Homo sapiens: one gene and its partners. The protein of the gene in region 2 purifies or fractionates together with the protein of the main gene of each other region. This does not show direct contact. Each region holds a gene or a part of one and is shown on either strand. Other genes may lie near its edges.

Region 1 (3,651 bases), on a different chromosome or scaffold from region 2:
CAATGGATTTGCCAATAAATAATAAAGCAAGACTTTTTTTGCCTGTGTGTGGGGTGGGGAAGGGGAGGGGAGGGGGAAAATATAACATACACACATGCCAGAGAAACCTTCATCTTTTGTTGGTCACTAAGATACAGCTTTGAACACATAACAAAACAGAGAAGGAGAGGACTATGAAACAAGAGCACTTGCATCACCTATAACAGGGGGCTCAACTGACAGGCTGGGCTCTCGCTGCGTCCTTGTGAGCCAGCTGCCATGATGACACCCGCTCTCCGCCCGCTGTGCCAGGGTTCCCAGGAGAGCAGATGTGGCTGCTGTGCATGTTCCCCGACTCCACTTAGAAACCTTACTCCTTAGTCCCTTTTTCATTAACGAGGGAGCTCGAAACTTTGGGGGAAAAAAGCACTGTACAATCTGATTAAAAAATAGCCAGGGAAGGACACACTACAAAATAACCGGCCTGTAAGATCAAACACGTCAATGTCATTCATGAAACAAACTGATCCAGACTTTTAAAATGTGACAACTGAATGTAACACATGACTACAGCTGAATATCATCATGTAATCTGGGATTTTCCTTTGCTATAAAGAACATTATAAGGATAGCTGGCAAATGTGAATGAGAGCTGTAGATTAGGTAACAGCAATGCATCAATGGTTACCTTCTAATTTTTTAATATGGCATTGTAGGGTTATGTAAGAAACTATTTTTAGGAAATGCATACCAAAGTATTTAGGGATGACTACGATTTACTCTCAAGCACGTCAGGAAGAAATACATAACATAAATGTCATTATATAGGTGTGTGTATATGTACACAAATGTGTGTGTATATGAGAGAGAAAGAGAAGGATAAAACAAATGTTAACATTTGAGGAGTCTGGGTGAAACAGATATGGGAATTCCTGCAACTTTTTTTAAGTCCAAAATTATGTTAAGAAGTTAAAAGAAAAATAAAAACTGGCTTTTTTTTTTTTTTTTTTTGAGACGGAGTCTCACTCCGTGGCCCAGGCTGGAGCACAGTGGCGCAATCTCAGCTCACTGCAAGCTCCGCCTCCCAGGTTCAAACAATTCTCCTGCCTCAGCCTCCCAAGTAACTGGGACTACAGGTGTGTGCCACCACGCCCAGCTAATTTTTTTGTATTTTTAGTAGAGACGGGGTCTCACCATGTTGGCCAGGGTGATCTCGTCCTGACCTCAGGTGATCCGCCTGCCTCAGCCTCCCAAAGTGCTGGGATTACAGGCATGAGCAACTGCGCCCGGCCAAAGCTGGCTATCTTATACTTATAAATTCAGCCAATGCTACCAGTTTAGTCAATGCCTTTCGATATAAGAAAATTCTAGATTTGTCATCCAATACTGGAAAGCAGCTATAGATCTATAAGAGTGGTAACAGAGAGGAAAAAAACCCACAGCCAGAGGCCTATATCCACCAAAAACCCTCTTCTAATTCTAACAGTACTCCTAACTCCTTACAGGCACAACCCATTAGTTGCCTTTATGACGCTGCCCCATGTAAAGTCTTGCATTGGTCTCCGGTTATTCAGCAACAGGTCAGGCCTGGACAACCCAGTTAAGATGAACCTCCCTCTCAATACATCTAAAGGTATCTGGCATAGCAACTGAAGCATATTTTGCTGCCCACCAGGTGTCTAACTTAAACTTCCCAAACTAGAGACTGGGAATAGCAGGGCAACTCTGAAGGTGGCACAAAGGAGTCCCAAGTCACAAAGGCAGCTAGAGTCCTCACATGCAAACAAAATACCAAGAAATGATAAAAAAGGAAGGTGACAGACCCACAGTCCAGGACACTTCCCTCCAAACCATCAAAAACTAAGCTACAGGTAGATCCCTTCAGCCTCAGTTTATTCCTCTGAACTGGAGAGATGCTCGAGAAACTAAACCAATGAGCTCTGAGGAGCTGAAAGTGATCCTTTTAATGTGAATCAGAGATAAAAAGTTAGGATTTATGAGGGAGGATTGTTGGTATCCTAAGGAAAATAAACCTAGTTTTACAGAAATAAGGATGCCTTGACTCTCCTGTCCAGAGCCTGTAGCCATTCACCACCAGTTACACAAAATGGAGAAAATACATATATTTCCACAACGATCTCACAGTTTCACTCTGCATGCTAGAAGAAGTCTCCGTCTGGGGTTCATTTATTCCAATTCAGAGACTATCTGTTTAAAAGATTCAAACTCAATCAGTTTAGCTATTGTCCAAACCAATAAAAAAATTTTTTTTTAACTTGAAATCTAGTAGACAAAGTGGTGAAAAAAAGAACAACTGAACTGACAAATTCAAGACAGGCAGGAACATATCTACAGCTCCTAGCTCTCAAATTTGGGGTTACTTTTACTCTACTACCAAACTAACAAGTGCTCCACCAAGATATTAATTTCATCACCTGCAATGAACAATGGTTGCCAAGAATGTAGAAGGACAGAGTAAAAAGAAAGTTCAGCCTGGATGATGGCACGTAATTCACTACCCTGGTGGCATCCCTAAAACTCACTGCACTTGACCTATATAAAAATATTATCTGAGCAATGTTATTTCATCACAGAAAACTTTTCCTCTAATCTTTCAAGTTTCATCACCCCAATTACATGATCTACTCCTTGAGGGTAACTGTTTACTCTCAGGAGTTAAAAAAAATTATTTAAAAAGGCAAGGCATAAATTCAAAATGATAATCAGATACTATCTCACACAAGTCAGGATAGCTGCTATCAAAAAAACCAGAAAAGAAGTGTTGGCAAGGATGTGGAGAAACAGCCACACTTGTACACTGCAGTCAGAATGTAAAATGGTATAGCCACTATGGAAAGTTCCTCAAAACATTAATCATAGAATTACCTTATGATCCAGCAATTCCACTTCTGGGTCTATACCCAAAAGAAGTGAAGCAGGGTCTTCAGGAGATATTTGTACACTCATATTCAAAGCAGCATTATTCACAATAGCTAAAACATGGAAGCAACCCATCCACTGATGGATGAATGGCTAACAAAATGTGGTATATACATACAATGGAAAATTATGTAGCCTTAAAATGGAAGGAAATTCTGATGCATGCAACAGTGATAAACTTGGAGGACATTATGCTGTGCAAAATAATCCAGCCACAAAAGGATAAATACTGTACAATTCCACTTATATGAGATACCTGGAGTAGTCAAATTCATAGAAACAGTAAGACGGTTGTTGCCAGGAAATGGGGGAGGGAGAAATAGGTAGTTACTGTTTAATGGATAGAGTTTCCATTTTACAAGATGAAGAGTTATGGAGATGGACGGCAGTGATGGTTGCACAACATTACCCACTGAACTGTACACTTAAGAATGGTTAAGATGGTAAATTTTATGTTATTTTATTTTATTTTTTTTTAGACGAGTTTCACTTTTGTTGCCCAGGCTGGAGTGCAATGGTGCAATCTCGGCCAACTGCAACCTCTGCCTCCCGGGTTCAAGCAATTCTCCTGCCTTAGCTTCCTGAGTAGCTGGGATTACAGGCACCCGCCACCATGGCCAACTAATTTTTTGTATTTTTAGTAGAGACGGAGTTTCACCAGGTTGGCCAGGCTGGTCTCGAACTCCTGACGTCAGGTGATCTGCCCACCTCGGCCTACCAAAGGGCTGGGAT
Region 2 (3,651 bases):
AAATCTAGCACAGATCTAATGAAATTATGCAGGAAGACTTAGAAATAAAATGTGTTCTTTGGGTAATCACATTCTGCTTTTCAAGAAATTCCCTAGCAGCCATACTGATTATTTTATTTTATTTTATTTTTGACAAAAATTATAATATTACCAGAAGAGATTTAGCTTAGGGAGTTTAAAGACCTGTCCTTACTAGTTTTTTGACTTTGTTAAAATCTCTGAGCTTTTGTTTCTTTACAGTAAAATGTAATAATGGTAGCTGCTATATTTTCCTCATGAGATTGCTTAAGGTTCAATTGAGATGATATAATTAAAATCATATTGCATTTTGGAAATGTGGCATTATCATTTGCTAATCGCAGCATAATTGCAAGATTGATAAGGTGATGTTTGTCTGTGCAGCGGTTTAAAAATTCTATTGGGGAAGATTTCCACATATTTGAGATTTACTGGATTGGACTGTTCAGCCACTTTCTAGAGAAACCAATTTGTTTTCCAGGTTCCTGATCATAGCCCAGTCTGTAGCCCAATAATTAGTCAGATTGTATTTTCAGTTAGTTGCTTTTTTTTTTTTTTCTTTTTTTGTTGATACAGAGTCTCACTCCATCGCCCAGGCTGGAGTGCAGTGGTGCAATCTCGGCTCACTGCAACCTCTGCCTCCAGGGTTCAAGCGATTCTCCTGCCTCAGCCTCCTGAGTAGCTGGGATTACAGGTGCATGCTACCACGCCCGGCTAATTTTTGTATTTTTATTAGAGACGGGGTTTCACCATGTTGGTCAGGCTGGTGTCAAACTCTTGACCTCATGATCTGCCTGCTTTGGCCTCCCAAAGTGCTGGGATTACAGGTGTGAGCCACTGTGCCCGGCCAGTTAGTTACTTTTCTGTAATGTAAAGTTATTTTTAGTAACTTATTTTTATTTCCTTTTTAAAAATTCTAGATTCAGGAGGAATCAGATATGTGGAAAATAAGAGAACTGGAAAAACAGATGGAAGATGCTTACCGGGGGACCAAAAGGAAAATGCTACCCAGCAGTTCAAGGTGAAGTTGCAGCTCTGAGAACTAAAATAATTCTCATCTTTTTCAGAATCATCAACTTTTGTTTAAAAATACTTTGGTATATTAAGGATAAATTCAGTTCTGTGAGTCCTTAAGCCTTCCTTCTTTCGTAAATCTAGACCCAGGCATAAAGATAATGGCTGTGACGCATATGGCCCTGCTCTTTGTACTTATTTACAATGGAGAGTTAAAAAATTCTACCTGAACAATTATGAATGTGTAGGGTTCTGTGGATTCTAACCTTACCTGATAGCTTTTAACTGAAGATTTTATACTGGAATCTTGTGGTCACTAAGCTGATCAGTCATTCTATTCTCTATTAATCTTTCATTCTTTCAGGCTTTTCTTTTTGTAGCTGGAACTGCAGGTGCATGCCACTATGCCTAGCTACTTTTTTTTTGTAGAGGTGGTGTCTTGCTGTGTTCCCCAGGCTGGTATAGAATCCTGGGCTCACGCAGTCCTCCCACCTCAACCTCCCAGTGTTGGGATTATAAGCATGAGCCACTTGCCTGGCCTCAGACTTTTCTTCACCCTGTCTATTCACCCTCTTCACCAGATCAACAGCCTTTTCACATTACCTTAATAGCTTGAGTGTAAATATGAAGGATTATGCAGGCTTAGTTATCTTCCTTGTGGAGAGGCCTAGGAATGCTTGAATAATTGGGAAGATCCTTACACGCTTGTAAGTGTAAGAGCTACATATATAAGAAATACTTAAACTCTTTAGGAGCAGGGCTTGTGATTTTCTCATTTGCTGCTATATTCCTGCCAGCTAGACCAGTACCTGGTACATAGGAGGCCCTTACAATTTTTTTTTTTTTTTTTTTTTGAGATGGAGTTTCGCTTTTGTTACCCAGGCTGGAGTGCAATGGTGTGGTCTTGGCTCACTGCAACCTCCGCCTCCTGGATTCAGCCAATTCTTCTGCCTCAGCCTCCCAATCAGCTGGGATTACAGGCACCTGCCACCACGCCTGGCTAATTTTTGTATTTTTAGTAGAGACAGGGTTTCACCATGTTGGCCAGGCTGGTCTTGAACTCCTGAGCTCAAAGTGATCCACCCACCTCGGCCTCCCAAAGTGCTGGGATTACAGGCGTGAGCCACTGGACCTGGCCCCTTAAAAATTTTTGATAACCGATTAGCAGCTTACTGGCTAGTTAGTAGAAATGGTAAACAGAAGCTGGATCAGTGGTTCTCAACTTTTTTCCTACTCCAGTATTCCCATGGGTTAGACCTTGTTCCCACTGTTATTGGGACCTCTCTATAGTAAGTTGCTGGTTTGCACAGAGGGAAGTGTATTTCAGAATCTCTAGGGTAGTTTGAAGTGTCCCTTGCTATGATTATGTTCTGCTTCCCTCTTTGCATGCCCTCCTAGTTGAGAATCAGCGAGTGAACTATCACATGACATAGTCCAGAGTTGATTTCATCTCTCTATGCTTTGCAATAGGATGGGTACTAATGGTCAGATTTTTTTCTTTTTTTCTTTTTTTTTTTTCCTGAGACGGAGTCTCACTCTGTTGCCCAGGCTGGAGTACAATGGCATGATCTGGGCTCACTGCAACCTCTGCCTCCCCGGGTTCAGGCAATTTTCCTGCCTCAGCCTTCCAAGTAGCTGGGACTATAGGCGTGTGCCACCACACCTAACTACTTTTTTTGTATTTTTAGCAGAGACAGGGTTTCACCATGTCCCCCAGGCTGGTCTTGAACTCCTGACCCCAAGTGATCCACTCGCCCCGGCCTCCCAAAGTGCTGGGATTACAGGCATGAGCCACTGCACCTGGCCTGGTCAGATTTTTTTCCACTGGACTTTACAAATGTACAGAGGAACAGATAATCAAAGTGCTGGGATTACAGGCATGAGCTACTGCACTAGGCCTGGTCAGATTTCTTCCACTGGACTTCACAAATGTATAGAGAGGAGCAGATAATGTCTTTGCCTTTTTTTTTTTTTTTTTTAAACAGTATCATGTTGTTTCCTTCCCCCTCAGCTTGTTCCATGAGTTTTGTGCATGATGTTCCATAAAGTAAACTCACAGATTGCTTTTACATCTAAAAGTTCTTCTGCTTTCTCTTTTAGCCGGATGCGCAGTGATGGTTTTGATGAAGAAAGTCAAAGATACTATTGGAGGCCAAAGAATGAAATTTCTGGGACACTGGAAGATGATTTTCTTAAGGCTAAATCCTGGAATAAAAAGTTCTATGATTATGAAGCAAACATGCCAGACAGGTTTGTGATTAATTCCTGTGAGCATTAATATTTGGCCTGAGAACGTGTACTTATCAAAATTAATTGTCCCCACAAAAAACTTGTGTACAAAAGTTCATACCAGCATTATTAATAATGGCCCCAAAAAATAATGGCCAAGTAATCCAAATGTCTGTCAACTGATGAATGGGTAAACAAAATGCGATATATCCATACAATGGAATATTATTTGGCAGTAAAAGAAATGAAGTACAGATACATGTTACAACGTGGCCTTGAAAACATCATGCTAAGTGAGAAGGAAGAAGCCAAGTCACGAAAGACCGCATATTGTATGATTCTATTTATGTACTATGTCCATACATAACTGTATGATTCCATTTATGTGGT
Region 3 (3,618 bases), on a different chromosome or scaffold from region 2:
CCGAGAGATCAAGGCTGAGGCTACAGTGAGCTGTGACTGTGCCACTGCATGCCAGCTTGGGTGACAAAGCGAGACCCTGTCTCAAAAACCAACCAACCAAGGCCGGGCACGGTGGCTCACACCTGTAATCCCTGCACTTTGGGAGGCCGAGGCTGGCAGATCACCTGAGGTCAGGAGTCAAGACCAGCCTGGCCAACGTGGTGAAATGCCGTCTCTACTAAAAATACAAAAATTAGCTGGGTGTGGTGGCGGGTGCCTGTCATCCCAGCTACTCGGGAGGCTGAGGTAGGAGAATCACTTGAACCCTGGAGGCGGAGGCTGCAGTGAGCCGAGATGGCACCATTGCACTCCAGACCAGGTGACAGAGCAAGACTCCATCTCAAAGAAAAACAAAAACAAAAACCCACATCTAGACCTGACCAAGAGAGAAACAGCTCCAGAGCCCAGGAGTAGGAGCCGGCCAGAGCAGCTGAGTAAGAACCTACATTACTGTCTGCCTGGCACCCATTCTCCCCTGCTTCATCTACAAACAGGTTCTTGAGTTTTCATTCGGAAACCACCCTCCCCCACTCACAGAGACGGAGACAGCGCGAGCAACAGATAATCAAGGGGTGGGCTGCAGCGCGGGGCATCTCTTCCAGGGTGTGTATATGTGGTGTGTACGCACACAGCCCCACACACGCACAGACGCGATTTTCCTTTGGACACGCCTAACGCATTTCCTGCTCACCCATTCCAGCAAAGTGGAGTTCCTTATGGTTCCATGACTTTGGTCTCTACGGCCCTGTCTCCCTGCCTCAGTCTCCCTTTCTCCTTGGGCCCCCGCGTCTCAGTTCCTGTCCATATTCTCTACAGAACTGTCAGCACCGCCCCACCTCTCCCCAGGCCAGCTCACCTTATCTGTGTCCCCACGGCCCTCAGAGCTGCTGCTGCCCTCTCTCTTGTCAGACGTGGCAGCCAGCCCGGTGGGGGTGGGGGGGGTCGAACCGCAGCCCCCCAGAGGGAGGCTGCCAGGAAGCAGGTAGCTGGAGGGGCCAGGGGGCAGACCCAAAGAGGTGGGCACAGGAGCTGGGGTCATCCCCAGACTTGAGGGTGGCTTTCTGTGGCTGAGGATCTGTGGGACGAGGACAGAGGGGTGATGAGTAAAGGGAGGTGGAGGGGAAGAGGGGACGTGCACCCCACTGTTCCCACGCTGACTTCCCCACAGCTGAGGCAACAGGCTCCTCTTCAGGCCGATACCTTGCCCCAGAGCTGCCAGGCCCGCGGTTCCTCTCCTAACCCGAGGCAATGGACAAAAGAAGGGGCGGCAGGGACTCTCCCCCAGGGGAGCCCACCTGGTTGGTGGCCTGGATCAGCTCCTGGGCCTTCGCTCGGCTCGCCAGGTTGGCTTCTTCCATCTTGAAGAGAAGTGCAGTCACTGCAGGAGGCAGAGAGGTGACAACATGAAGATGGGAGAGGTGACAGGACAGGAGCTGGTGAACCTCACCTGGACACCTGCTGTCATCTCCTGCCCTTGGCCCCAGAACAGCCACAAAGCCTCACGCTCAGAACTGGGAAAAGGGGGCCTTGGCCAATGAGAGAACAGCCCATACCACGAATGTTCTTGGGACTCCAGGTGTGTGGGTGCGGGGTTGGCCAGGGTCATGCAGTGATGAGACAGTGGCAGGAGTGAGATTCTGCCTCCTGACCCGCTGTGGCCAGTCCCAACCTCTCTCCCCACCTCTGCAGTCTGGTAGAGGCAACCGCCATCCGTAAGGAATACGATGCCCTGCTCAAGCCATTCTTTCTGGTCCCTCTCTCCTACTCCCCGTCTAGGGGAATCCCAGAACCCAGCCCACCACTCCAGTCTGTGCTGGCCACCACCTGCTCTCACCGGCCCCTCTCTCCCAGTACACCCAGGCACCTAGAGCCTGGCTGGCCTTTACTCACCCCCACCCTCCCAGTCTATGTCCCTATAAACCTCTCCCTGCCAGGGCACCCCACTGCCTCTAAGTCTGTACCCTCCAGTCCCCATCCTGTCTCACCTGCCCCAGCACCACCCTCCCCCAGGGGACACTCACAGGCCAGGACGCCGCTGGTGGTGCAGTCCACACCAGCTGGCAGATTCCAGGGCATGGGCGGGGGCAACGTGGGCAGCTGGGAGACACGGGAAGCTGGCCCGTCCTCCGCCCCCGAGTCACCGGCTGTGGACCCCGCGCTGGGGGCAGTGCTTGGGGCGGCTGCAGCAGTGCTGGTGGCCGTGGTGGTAGCAGGCTGCTGCTCCTCCTCCTCTTCCTCTTCCTCCTCCTCTTCTTCTTCCTCCTCCTCCTCCTCCGCCCCACCTCGGACCCCAGCCTCCTCAGTGGCCTCCTCGGGCAGGAAGGAGACCTCAGGTGTCTTGCAGCTGCTGTCCACGGTCTGCGAGTCCGGAGTGAGGGCAGGGGGTGGTGGGGCTGCCTTGGGGGGCGGGGTGCTAGGAACCTTGGCTGCCCGCTCCTCCCCGGACCAGGAAGTCTCCTCCGCCCCCTTGGTGCCTGCCGCCTGGCTGCAGCTATCCGCCTTGGACTTCTTCAGCGACACCTGGCCACCACTGCCCCCGCTGCCACCTCCACTGCGGACCTTTTTCCTGGTCTTGGATGGCTTGGTCTTTCCCTTGGTCCCCTTGGTTTTCTTGGCCCCTGCCTTGGCCTTGACCTTGGTCTTTTTGGGCTTGGTGCTGCCCGGAGCTGCTTTGGCCATCTCAGTGGGGGCCCGCTCGTCAGGTTTGAGGAAGGGGGAGCGACTCTCGCGGTCACGGCTGAATTTGACGCCAATGGAGCCCAGGCCGGCTGACGCGGCATCCTTGGCCGGGGTGGTGCTGCTGACACCCTCGCGGATCAGCACCGCCACCTTGGACTGCAGCTTCACCTTCCGGGAAGAACAGGAGGACGACGAGGATGAAGAGCCTGAGCCGCTGCTGACTGGTGGCTTTGGCGGGGGCCCTGAGGAAGGCGCCGACTCCTTGGGGGGCCGGGCCTTCTTGGATGACCTGTCCCTGTCCCTATCTCTGTCCCTGTCCCGATCCCGGTCACCCCCGTCCAGCGCCTTCCGACGAGACCCCTTCTCCCGGGAAGAGGAGGAGGAGGAGGCGGCCCCCGAGCGGCGCCGATCCTTCTGGCTGCTCTTGCCGCCCCGCTCCTCGCCGCTCAGTCCCTCGGAGTCGTACAGGACCTCCCGCTTAGGTGAGGAGGCCGGAGCAGGAGAGGGTCCTCGGGGGTCGGACTTGTCAAGCCGGCCCACCGTGATGGTCCGCTTGATGGCGAAGAGGTCGTGGTCCGTGAGGTCCTGGATGGAGGGTGGCACGGCCCCCCGGCGGCGGCTGTCGCGGTCACCACACGAGGTGGAGCCAGAGGGCGGCGGGGCGGGCGCCGGGGCCTTCTCGCTGCCATCCCCAGACCGCTTCTCACCCCGGGACCGCGACCGCTTCTTCTTCTTCTTGCTGCCGCCACCGTCCCGGTGTTTCCCGCGGTGCCGCTCGCGCCTCGAGGACGACGATGAGGAAGTGGCCGGGGGCGGGGAGGCGGAGCGCCGCCGCCGTCGCCGCTTCTCCCGGGACCGCGACCTGCGGCTGCCCCCGCGGCGGCGGTCGGTGCTGCGCGA

What was found.
Region 1: the proteins of NKAPD1 (region 2) and CSNK2A2 purify together in Homo sapiens (affinity purification with mass spectrometry; 7 studies listed by BioGRID and IntAct, with this or other methods). This does not show direct contact.
Region 3: the proteins of NKAPD1 (region 2) and SCAF1 purify together in Homo sapiens (affinity purification with mass spectrometry; 2 studies listed by BioGRID and IntAct, with this or other methods). This does not show direct contact.

The regions. Positions count from the first base shown.
Region 1 is NC_000016.10:58,187,985-58,191,635, forward strand, and holds part of CSNK2A2 (casein kinase II subunit alpha'), read right to left. Parts: intron 1-3,651.
Region 2 is NC_000011.10:112,077,277-112,080,927, forward strand, and holds part of NKAPD1 (uncharacterized protein NKAPD1), read left to right. Parts: intron 1-938; coding exon 939-1,039; intron 1,040-3,132; coding exon 3,133-3,282; intron 3,283-3,651.
Region 3 is NC_000019.10:49,652,148-49,655,765, reverse strand, and holds part of SCAF1 (splicing factor, arginine/serine-rich 19), read right to left. Parts: coding exon 2,061-3,618; intron 1,418-2,060; coding exon 1,335-1,417; intron 1,115-1,334; coding exon 896-1,114; intron 1-895.